3 separate regions of the Homo sapiens genome follow, and all the other regions are reported to be linked to region 1. Evidence: microRNA targets listed by miRTarBase, many of them from high-throughput screens and not tested one by one. Region 1 holds a microRNA gene; each other region holds the end of a gene's coding sequence.

Region 1 (4,000 bases):
CCCAAAGACCTAATAAAAACAACAACAAAATCGAAGGTACAGTGCTAGTGATTGGATGTGGCTCCCCCAAGCAGACCTGATGAGGGGGTCATCTATTTCCCCCTTGCACTGCAGAACACAGCTGCAAATGTTAACATAGACAAAGGAACCACAAGGCTGAGTAGAAGCCTATCTACTGCCCATTGCTCTCAAGGACCATCTACTAGATTGTAGCCCAAACTACAACACCAAAATCACTTTACTAATCCTGCCCTTGCAAAACCAAGAGTAAGAATTCTGCAACGAAGACACCATACAGAGCCTTAGTTCTCTAAAAACTTTCAGAAACAAAGCCAACAAAGTACACTCAATTTACACCACAATTAAAAGAATACCATCCCTCCCAGATGAGAAAGAATCAGCATAAGAACTCTGGCAATTCAAAAAGCCACACTGCCCCCTTACCTCCAAATGAGCCCACTAGCTCCCCAGAAATGTTTCCTAACCAGTCTGAATTATCTGAAATGACAGACATAGAATTCAAAATATGGATGGCAAAGAAGCTCATTGAGATCAAGAAGAAAGTTGAAACTCAATCCAAGGAAGCCAAGCAATCCAGTAAAATGATTCAAGGGCTGAAAGGTGAAATTCTCACTTAAAGAGAGACAAAAACTTAATTTCTTGAGCTGAAAAATTCACTACAAAAATTACATAATATAATTGGAAGTATTAACAGCAGAATAGACCAAGCTGAGGAAAGAATCTGAGAGCTCAAAGAGCAATTCTTTCAATTAACACAGTCAGACAAAAATACAGAAAAGAGAATTGAGAAAGATGAAGAGCAGAGAGTGGGCCGAGACCTCCAATTAGAAGTAGCTATGGTGCATGGCACTCATAAAGAGGAAGAAAAGCAGTGAGTAAATACAGCACCTTCAACTGAAATATCCAGGTTTTCGCACTGGGACTGATCAGGGAAATAACCAATCCACAGAAAACAGAGAAAAGTAGGGCAGGATGATAGCCCACCTGGAAGTGACGCAAAGCCAAGGGAACCCCCACCCCAGCCAAGGAAGTGGTAAGTGAATGTGCCACCCTGGGAAACCACATTTCTCCCATGGATCTTTGCAACCCTCAGATCAGGAGATCCCCTCATAAACCCACTCCACCAGGACCTTGGGTCAGATACACAGAGCTGTGTGGAGTCTCAGCAGGGCAGCCACTCAGGTATGCACAGAGACCCAGGAGATTTACATACCCCAGCCACAGGATCCCTGGCAAAGGTGACTACAACTCAGTCAAGGCGGGAGGTCCATACATACCCCTAGGAAGGGGGCCGAATCCAGGGAGCTGAACAGCGTCCATCTGTGGGCCCCATTTCCAAGGCACCTCACAAAATAAGACCCACTGGCTTGGAACTTCAGCCAGCCACCAGCAACAGGGTAGTGCCTGCCTGAGATGGAATGGAGCTGCCAGGGAAAGGGGTGGGCTGTCACCTTTGTTATTTGGACAACTCAGCTGTTCAAGTCTGTGGGCTTTGGAGAGTCCAAACAGTCTGGACAAGTAAGGGACCCCCAGCACAGCACAGCACAGCTGCTCTATGAAAATGTGGCCAGACTACTTCTTTAAGTGGGACCCCAATCCATTCCACCCCACTGGGCAGGACTTCCCAATAGGGACCTCCAGCCACCCCTGCCCATATTCTAGGAAAGAACTCTGATCTCTCCCTTGGCTGGAGTGCCCAGTGGGGAGGGATGAGCTGCCAATGTTGCTTTGAGCCCATTCCAGCCTGTAGGCTTTGCAGAATCCAAGCCAATACAGGCAGAGATGGATCCCCAGCAACGCATGGCTGTTTTGTCAAGGTGTGGCCAGACTGCTTCTTTAAATAGAACCCCAATCCATTCCTCCTTGCTGGGCAGGTCCTCCCAACCAGTGCTTCCAACCACCCTCACCCATGTTCTATGGCTGACAAAGTTCTAATTTCTCCCTGTGATGGAGTGCCCAGGGGGCCAGGTGGGCTGCCACCTGTGCTGTTTGGGCATCTCACCCAGTCCAACCTGTGGGCCTTGGAAAGTGCAAAACTATATGGGGGTGAAGGGAAGCCAAACACAGCACAGCTGCTCTACAAAAACGCAGGAAGGCTGCTTCTTTAAGGAGGTCCCTGATCCCATTCCTCCTGACTAGGTGAGACCTCCAAAACAGGGTTTCCAGCCACATCCTATGGGTGCATTCAGGCTGGCAACAGGTCAGTACTTCTCTGGGACAGAGCTCTGAGAGGAAGGGGCAGGCTGCCATCTTTGCTGTTTTGCAGCCTTCACCGGTAATACCTACAGGTACTGAAAAAACTGAGGTGACTAGGGTCTGAAGCAGCCGCCCAGCAAATCATAGCAGCCCTACAGAAAAGTGGTCAGACTGTTCAAAGAAAAAACGAGCAAAACAACAAGAACAACAACAACAAAAACCCATCCAAAGGTCAACAACCTCAAAGATCAAAGGTAGATAAGCCAACAAAGATGAGAAAGAATCAGCACAAAAACACAGAAAACTCAAAAATCCAGTGTGCTCCCTTTCCTCTAAATGACCACAACACCTCTCCAGCAGGGATTTAGAACTGGACTGAGGCTGAGATGGCTGAGATGATAGAAATAGGATTCCAAATGTGGATCTAAAAAATGAACTTCACTGAGCTAAAGGAGCACTTTGCAACTCAATGCAAGGAAGCTAAGAATCATGATAAAACAATGCAGGAGCTGACAGCCAAAATAGCCAGTATAGAGAGGAATATAACCAACCTGATAGAGCTGAAAAAAACACAACAAGAACTTCACGATGCAATCACAAGTATTAATAGCAGAATAGGCCAAGCAGAAGAAAGAATCTCAGAGCTTGAAGAATGTCATTCTGAAATAACACAGGCAGACAAAAATAGAGAAAAACAATGAAAAGGAATAAACAAAACCTCCAAGAAATATGGGATTATGTAAAGAGACTGAATCTATGACTGATTGGGGTACCTGAAAAAGATGAGGAGAATGGGACCATTTTGGATAACATAATTCAGGATATCATCCAGGAGAACTTCCCTGACCTACCTACAGAAGCCAACATTCAAATTCAGAAAATGCAGAGAACCCCAGTAAGATACTTACTCCACAAGAAGATCGTCCCCAAAACATGTAATCATCAGATCCTCCAAGGTCAAAATGAAATAAAAAATGTCAAAGGCCACTGGAAAGAAAGGCGAGGCCACCTACAAAGGGAAGCCCATTGGACTAACAGTGGACCTCTCAGCAGAAACCATGCAAGCCAGAAGAGATTGGGGGACAATATTCAACATTTTTAAAGAAAAGAAATTCCAATGCAGAATTACATATCTAGCCAAACTAAGCTTCATAAGAGAAGAAATAAGATCCTTTTCAGACAAGCAAATTCTGAGGGAATTTGTTACCACCAGACCTGCTTTATAAAAGCTCCTGAAGGAAGCACTAAATATAAAAAGGGAAAACTGTTGCCAGCCTCTACAAAAATACACTGAAGTATACAGACCAGTGACATTATAAAGCAACTACATAAACAAGTCTGCAAAATAACCAGCTAGCATCATGATCACAGGATCAAATCCATACATAACAGTATTAACCTTAAATGCTCCAATTAAAAGACACAGAGTAAAAAGCTGGATAAAGAACCAAGACCCACTGGTAAGCTGTCTTCAAGAGACCCATCTCACACGCAAAAACATACACAGGCTAAAAATAAAGGGATGGAGGAAAATTTACCAACCAAATAGAAAACAGAAAAAAGCAGGGATTGCAATCCTAGCATCTAACAAAAAAAGACTTTAAACCAAAAAATATCAAAAAAGACAAAGAAGAGTATTACATAATGATAAAGGGTTCAATTCAACAAGAATAGCTAACTGTCCTAAATATATGTGCACCCAAAACAGGAACACCCAGATTCATAAAGCAAGTTCTTAGAGACCTTCAAAGAGACTTAGACTCCCACACAATAATAGTGGGAG
Region 2 (4,000 bases), not on the chromosome of region 1:
GAAATTACTCCCTGCAACAGGAGGAATAGAAATGAAGCAGTGAGTGTTCAGAAATTAGATCTACAAGAAGTTTTGCAAACAGACCCTCAGGGCCAGGCAATGTTTGTTTTTGTTTTTTGTTTTTTGTTTTTTTTTTTAATCTGAAGCCCCTGATTTTATTTTTCCAGCATCACTCTAAGGAAGAGTGTGGATTAGTGCCATTATTCAGGGCTGGTATTAATAAAAGTTAGCTTTTATCTGCAGGGCTAGGTTAAGGCTGGCATTCTTACTTTTACATTAAAAAAACTGGCTACAGGCTGCGCAGCTGAGGTACTTCAGTCATGTGCCTTCTCTAAAGGATTCTTAGATCCTTAAAATATATAGTATGTTTTAAGTTTGTATCTAAATAGCACTTACTGTAATGTATTATACCTAAATGTTTATTAAAAGTTAGAAGAAATGAGTACCAACAGGAAGGAATGGAAGAGAGGAGAGGGGCTAAGACATTGCTGATCTGAGGGACAGACCTCTATCAAATAGAAGAGGGCTGGGAGAAGGGGTGATTAGAAGCAGAGTGAGGGAACTAAATGGAGCCCTGACTGCACCAAATAAAGTTCTCATTTTGCTGCTTGTTCCAAATAAATTAGTGTCTATTTGTGTAATGCAGACTAAATGCCAGTTGTGTAAAGCCAATCAATGCAGAAGCAAGCTAAGAACTAGGAGGAAAAATTAATTGCTTGGCCATCATTCCTTTTGGGACCACATAACCTCCGTGGTGGGGCTCAAATGGACATCATTTCTCTCTTATGCACCTCTCTTTTCAAACTTCTCACTCTCTGGACAGCTTGCTCTTTTCTTAACCATTTATAGGAAATTGCAAAACTTGCATCTTTATGAGCTAGAATTTGGAGCCCAAGGAAAAGCACAGAGTAGCATGAGATGCCAGAAGAGGCCCATTTCCTTCCACAGGGATGAGAACCAAAAACCAAAGAATAGAGAGTAGGGTATAGGTAGATTTAAGTCAGGTTGACGTCCTATGGAAGGCATATGCCATTATTTATGTGGTAACCTGCATGTTCTTGTGAGAACAGGGGCTGGCCAGGACCTGAGGCTTTCCCCAGCAGCCTGGCATATAATATAAGGCAGCTTCCTTTGGTAAATTCATTCAGCCCTATTGTTGAGTTCAGACTGACCATGACCCCCTTACCTCTCCACTACCCCAAAGCTTTCCTCAAGATGTCAGCTGTTCTCTTCCCCTCCCATTTCCCCCTCCTTAATCCCACCATTGGCTCATCAGTTATCCAGTTGACTCCATTCTGAAGGAAGACATTCTCTTGGCCTGACTCACTCAGGCCCATTTCTCCACAGGCATCCCCTTACCGCAGACCACAAGGGCCCTGACTAGCTCATGTTTTGTGTTAATGGATGTGAAACCAGAGCAAATCCCCTCACCAAAAGAAAAACCACCCTAAACTCTCCCACACAGGTCTCAGCAGGTTACACAAATATTAGTCCTATCATCCAAATAAATCTGCCCCCGTGGCCCAGAGCTATGGCTCCCCCAACCTCCTGCTGCCTGTGCAGAGTGAAGCTGCTTCAAAAACATGAGGACCCCAAGGGATATTGGAGAGGAACTTTGGAAAGACAGGGGCCTGTATCCAGAATTCTTTATGCAGGCTCCTTAATCTACAGACTTTTGTTAATACTTTATAGTCCTAAAGAAGGACTGTTCCTAGAGAAGTCATGATGGGCTAGACCAGCCAGGGGCTTTGGTGAAGAGGATCTGCGGGCTGGAGTTTGGTGCATAATTAAAACTCAGCGTCTGACAGCTGGGCACAGTGGCTTGCGCTTGTACGCCCAGCACTTTGGAAGGCTGCAGTGGGAGGATTGCTTGAGACCAAGAATTCAAGACCAGCCTGGGCAACATAGTGAGCTCCATCTCTGAAAACTATGTTTAAATTAGCTGGGCATGATGGCATGGCCCTGTAGTCCCAGCTAATGGGGAGGCTGAGGTGGGAGGATTGCTTGAGCCTGGGAATTTGAGGCTGCAGTGAGCCATGATCATGCCAGTGCACTCCAGCCTGGGCAACAAAGCGAGACCCTATCTCTAAAAGAAATAAAAAGAAAGAAAAAAAAGAACAGGTACGTATCCTCATTTTACAGATGAGAAAATAGAAGCTCAGAAAATTTAGCTACCTTGCTCAAAATATCAAAGCAAATGGCACAGCTGTGATTTTTAACCCGGGTCTGTCATAACCGCAAATTTCTATACCACTCTGCTGCTTTAAGATATCAACAGGCAAAAGATAACCACTGTCCAACTCACATAAAAATAGGACATCAAGTTTTGGGGGACTTCATGTCCTACCTCCAGCTTACTAAGCCTGCTATCTCTGGAGATTCCACTACTGCAAACCTAGTTAGGCAATGGGTAATAGCATTACCCATTAAGCCAAATGTGGAGTGAACAATAATAATAATCACTAGGACTTGGAGAGTCACTAAATAAAGATTTGTTGAGTAAGTGGAGGAAGGCTGCCTTCTAAGCTGTGTATCACTTTGGCCCCAACCTGCAGTACTCCTTCCCACTGTAGCCACTGACTCCTGCTCCCAGCTTCAAAGGCTAGGATCCTCTCATAAAGAATTACCAAAGCCAGAGATCCCTACCTGCCTAATATATACTGATGCCTCATGTGGGCCCTTGAGATCAGACCTGCTTACCTGCTCTCCCACCATCCATGAGTTGCCTATCTTTCTTTTACTCCATGTCTCCCCAAACCTGGCAAACCTCCAGAATAGTGCATGGGAAGAGAAGAAAAGAAAAGAAAAAAAAAAAAAAAAAAAAGGCAACACAAGGCCTAGCCAGACTTACTACATTAATCTATCCTAGGAGTGTTCTAGGGTGTTTTAATGATTTGTTAAGCATGGGAACCACTGCATTCCACCTCAGTTTGAACAGGCAGCAAGTAAGCAAAAGAGGCAGTGCTGTCCAATACAGGTTGAGAATGGTAGAGAGAAAAAGAGAGAATGAATGTGTGTTTGTATTGTTATGATTCTTTTTCTTCTACAAAACACAGTTTATAAACATATGAGCATGTGAATGGAACCTTGTCCACTATGGCTAACATCTCAGGCTCTCAATAATAGAATGTGGTAGCCTAAGATTTTCTTTCGGGGTACCAGGTAGTTCTGCTCAAACGGACTTCAGAGAAGGGACATGCCATTCATCTTTGTCCCATCTAACTTTGGCCAGGTAGAAACAAAAAGAAGCTCTCTACAGGTACCCTTCCTCTTGCACACCAAGAAGTATCGGGAAGCTGGTGCAAAGGAAAGAAAAAAGGAGCCTCAACTACGTACTTTAGTGCAACTCATTTCACTCTAAAGACCCCCTATCTCTTCTACTCTCCCTTCAAATCTCCAGAGCGGGAAATCAGGGAGCTTGCTCAGTTTCTTATATCCCCTGACAACTCCTTCCCAGGGCTAAGGAACCAGCCAGGACACCATGGTCCCTATGGATTACTCTCTACATCCTTAAATAGAAGCGGTAGCAGCCCAGGGTGGAGGGTGGAGGAAGGTGTGCATGCAAGGATCTTGTGCTTTTGAGTTGAGAGGCTTGAATTGGAGGGATGAGTGAGGTATCTGTGTGTTCAGGTTTGGTCCAGCCACTCTGCCTTCTTGGGGGCTTTGCAAGTATGGACGTCCACAGTATTTCTGCATTCCTTGCACCGTACAGCACAGCACCAGTGGAATTTGCACTCACACTGGGTAACACGGGTGACTCGAGTTGTGTCGTACCCTCGGCCACAGCACATGATTTCACAACCGTCTGTTCCTTTTGATGTCTTGCTGCAGACACGGCCTGCAGTGCCTAGGGAACCTGGGTTGGGGAAGAGAGGGAGTGAGAACAAAGTTATCTCTTCAGCTGCCCTGGATACCCTTAACCACATTCTCAGAAGGAAGATAAAAAGAATCGCTTTTTTGGGCTGGGCACAGTGGCTCACTCATGCCTATCATCCCAGCA
Region 3 (4,000 bases), not on the chromosome of region 1:
AATCCCAGCTACTTGGGAGGCTGGGAAAGGAGAATCTCTTGAACCCAGGAGGCGGAGGTTGCAGTGAGCTGAGATCGCACCATTGCACTCCAGCCTGGGCAACAGAGCGAGACTCTGTCTCAAAAAAAAAAAAAAGTTGCACTGCACATTCACAAAAAGCCACTCTCCTTGGCTGCATTGGAGACCCTGTATGATCTGGCCTCAGGCCACCCTGACGGCCCTGTTTCCCTCTGCCCCCCTCACCCCGACCCTCCAGTCCTGCTCCTTCCAACCCCGACACATTCCATATGTCTCCGTCTCCTGAAGACTCAGACCCTCCTAAGGAAAAAGGTGCGGGTCTTGGTGATCTTTTTATCTACCCTGGTGCCTGGCAAGCAACAAACAAATATCATCAGCAGAAAGCCAGGCTCAGCTGAGATCATGAGAGCCCAGGAAGCAGTTATATCAGGAGTAACAACCTGGGTCACAGCAGGCCCAGGACCCTGGAAGCTGAGCTCCCCTATATGGGAAAGGAAGAACTAAAGCCAAACTTCAAGTGCCCTTCCAGAGCCTGAGCTCATCACTGAGAACCTCTGTCTGTCCCTTCTCCTGCAAAGAGAAGGACACAGGTGGGAGAGGAGCATGGGGTGGGAACAAGGTCAGACATAGGCCTGTGGTGGTTTGATCTGTTCCATACCTAGGATGGGGACTGGAGCCTGCTCAGCTTTCACCTTCCAGCGTTACCTGGAGCAACCCTGTGGGGAGCTGTAGGCTGTCCCCATAGACTTCTGAGATGTCTTTCTTTCTCTCCATCTGCAGGAAGATGTCAGAGCCCCAGTCTTTTCCCTAGGAGAGGCTTCCCTAGATGGTGGGAGTCCTGGCCCAGGCCACTGTGGGTTTTACGAAGTTGAAGGTCCTGGTTCGGTGATGGCACAGGGGCACACATAATAACTTCCTGCCTTTCAGGGAGCACAGCTCAGCTCCACAGCAGGACACCTGAGCAGCCAGAAGCTAGAAAGATGCAAGCCTGCCTCCAAGTGGTCACATGTCATAACTGCAGCCCACAACCCAGACCCTCCAGGCAGAGGTGCCTGGGCAGCATTGACTATGGCAGGCCAGGCAGCCACCATCATCTGGCTCTGAAGATTCCACGTGCTCAGGTGAAAGAGAGGTGCCGGTTCTACATGAGCAAAGGAGCATCAAAGTGTCACACACACATGCATTCAGACTTTCACCTTTTATCATGGTTTTAGAAATAAGGATGCATAGGCCAGGTGTGGTGGTTCACGCCTGTAATCCCAGCACTTTGGGGGGCCGAGGCAGGCAGACTACCTGAGGTCAGGAGTTCGAGACCAGCCTAGCCAACATGACGAAACCCCATCTCTACTAAAAATACAAAAAATAGCCGGGCGTGGTGGCACACGCCTGTAATCCTAGCTACTTGGGAGGCTGAGGCAGGAGAATCGCTTGATTCAGTGGAGGTTGCAGTCAGCCAAGATCACACCATTGCACTCCAGCCTGGGTTACAAGAGCGAAACTCCGTCTCCAAAAAAAAAAAAAAAAAAAAAAAAAAAAAAGGATGCATGTTCAGTGAGGTCAAATAACCTACTCCACTTAGTTTGTAAGCATCAGTCTTGGGCCAAAAGTCATGTCCACTTGATGCTGGGATTCCACTTCAATCAAATGAGGCAATTGGACTCTACTGCAGCTAACTGCTACTTACACATCAGAATTACCCAAGGAGCTTTAAACATATTTATCTATCCCTCTGACCCAGGCTGACTGAATCAGCATCCCTGGGTGTGGGCTGGGAATGTGTCTTTTCAGCACACTTCCCCAGCAAGATAAAAGTGCCTCTGTAAACTGAGAGCAGGAAACCAGTGGGCAAGATTGTCAACTCATGGAGTCAGGGACATGTTTAATTCATTTGTGAATCCCCTGGTACTGGCACATAGAAAGCGTCCCATATTATCTGCAAAATGAATGAATGAATAAATGAGCAAGTAGGTGAATGAATGATTCTGAGGTCTCCTCCAGCTTTGATGGCCTATGACCGTGTGACTCCTGCATATGCATGAACACACAGACACAGACACTACACACATGCACAGACACACATACACACTTGGAGCAAAGAGGGATGAAGCCTGCCACACTGCAGGTGGTCCTAGCTGCCTGACCTCCCTTCCTCACACACTGACACACCTCCCTCTTTGTTGACCTGTTATTTATTGTGCACCCATTGGGTGCATGGCCTAGCCCTAGGCCCTGGCCGGAGACCCAAACATGGCCTCCAAGGGCCAACCTTACTTTGTGGAGGTGCAAGCCCCAGAGCTGGTTACAAGCATGGGAAGGGAGGAGGGTGGCCTAGCAGGAAGGCTGGGGAGGCAGTGTGTCAGCCGGCAGGCAGCAGCGGGTAGCAGAGGCCCCCTCTTGGCGGGCAGCCTACTTGCACACTTGGCTGAACAGAGACAATGGTGGCTGGTCCCTCCGGCCCAGCCTCCTTCCTACAGGCAGAGCCCCAAGTCCATGAGTCTCCGGAACCTCCCTCAGAGAACAAGCCCAGCTGGGAGGCAGCCAGAGGGCAGGATGAGGGGATTTCCCAGGGGAGAGCAGCAGAGACCCTCTGAGCTGCCAGAGATGGGGAAGGGGTCCAGGCACCCCACAGGAAGGAAGGTTTAAGGCATGTGTAGAAAGGAGCACAGAAAAGTCTCCCGAGCCTGGCCTAGGCCTCGCCTGGTCGCCAGCCTCCGTCCCATCCCTCACAACTCTCCTGAGCTGTGGCTCCTGCCAGGCAGACCCCTAAGGGAAACTGTCGCCACCTTTTACCTCTCTATCCTCTCCAGTGGTCTGAACATAGAGAACCTCCTTCTCTGCTCTGTTGGAACAAAGGCTCCTTGTTCCTAGGGTTCCAGGGTTCCCTGCAAAGCTCTGGAGGCCCCACCCCGCCCAGCCCTCACTCATGCCATCAGCTCTGCTCTGTTGATGAGCAGTTGGGTATGTGAGACTGTTTCATCTACTTCGGGGGAAAGGAGACACAAGGAGACAAAGGCACAGGGCCCCACAGCCGTGCAGAGCCCTTGAAGCCCCCCGAGGTCCCTGCCCAGAAGGCTGTCCCCTCAGTGGGCAGGACCTTAGCGACCCTGCTCCCTGGGTCACAGGAGGCTGGTTAGGAATTTCTCAAGAGTCCCTGATTCACTCTCCTGGGGCCTCCCCAGGAAGGTCACCTAATTCCCAGAGCAAGACCATCCTTGGGGCTGTGGCTCCCCTGGCTGGGCTGCCCAGGGGCCTCTGCTGCCCCAAGCTCTCCCCCAGAAGCCAAGGGCACACCACATAAGCACTGGTTCTCAAACAAGTGCTGAGTTCTCAGCAAGTCTAGGAAATGAGGCCACTCTGGATTCTGGGGCCTGGAGGGTGACATGGGCTGAGCTCTGGGAGGAAAGTCAAGTCCTCACCTCCCTCTTCCCTTGGGCGTGGCCAGGGACTGGGGCTGCGGAGGGACTGCCATGGGGGTGGTGGGGAGCACAGCAATATTAGGAAAGCTTCAGGGAGCACAAGAATGAGGGCCACAGGGAAACAAGGTTTGTCCTTCAGCAGGGAAAGGAGGTGCCTCATCCGTCATGGTGGACTCATTGAAATAAGTCTCCTCCAGGGAGGTTCATCTCAGGTCTACCCTGGAGCAGGGAACAGTGTCTCTGAGGTGGTGCTGGCTTCACAGCTGATTGCGGTTCCGCTTAGGGATGATCTTCCGGTAGGTTCTGCGCTCTGAGATGTTGCGCTTCACCTTGGCCGTGGTGGGAGCCTCATCCTGGTGCAGGGACGGGCTCGAGTGGGACTTCTTCAGGCTGAGCTTGGGCTCCCGAGTGCCTCCAGCTTCCCTCCCCAGCTGCTCCTCCCACAGGTCCAGAGCATCAGAGGGGCAGTGCAGGCGGGCCACCAGCAGCTGCACGTAGGTCTCGTAGCGGGTTTTCTGCAACACACAGGCCCCACCACCTTAGCACCATCCTGGCTCCAGGTTGGG

The links. Region 1 holds the annotated microRNA hsa-miR-7151-3p (CUACAGGCUGGAAUGGGCUCA, at 1,751-1,771, opposite strand). A microRNA usually pairs through its seed, bases 2 to 8, with sites in the 3' UTR of a target mRNA and lowers its output. Matches are read on the target gene's strand: a 7mer-m8 pairs with bases 2 to 8, a 7mer-A1 pairs with bases 2 to 7 and ends in A, and an 8mer does both.
Region 2: miRTarBase lists WNT2B as a target of hsa-miR-7151-3p. Seed matches in the 3' UTR shown: 7mer-m8 at 291-297.
Region 3: miRTarBase lists PSD4 as a target of hsa-miR-7151-3p. Seed matches in the 3' UTR shown: 7mer-m8 at 2,488-2,494.

What each region holds. Positions count from the first base shown.
Region 1 is chr10:67,401,601-67,405,600 of GRCh38, forward strand. MIR7151 (microRNA 7151) reads right to left here and starts at 1,810; the gene lies at 1,751-1,810. All of the region lies in intron 5 of CTNNA3 (catenin alpha 3), which reads right to left.
Region 2 is chr1:112,520,136-112,524,135 of GRCh38, reverse strand. WNT2B (Wnt family member 2B) reads right to left here. Exons shown (of 5, transcript NM_024494.3): 5 at 1-3,856. The coding sequence ends at 3,627. ST7L (suppression of tumorigenicity 7 like) reads left to right here. Exons shown (of 15, transcript NM_017744.5): 15 at 1-622. Among named protein-coding and RNA genes, the nearest start is that of WNT2B, 13 kb to the right of the region's middle.
Region 3 is chr2:113,201,107-113,205,106 of GRCh38, reverse strand. It overlaps PSD4 (pleckstrin and Sec7 domain containing 4), which reads right to left. Exons shown (of 17, transcript NM_012455.3): 17 at 1-3,949. The coding sequence ends at 3,692. Among named protein-coding and RNA genes, the nearest start is that of PSD4, 29 kb to the right of the region's middle. RefSeq lists enhancers at 783-832, 1,173-1,222.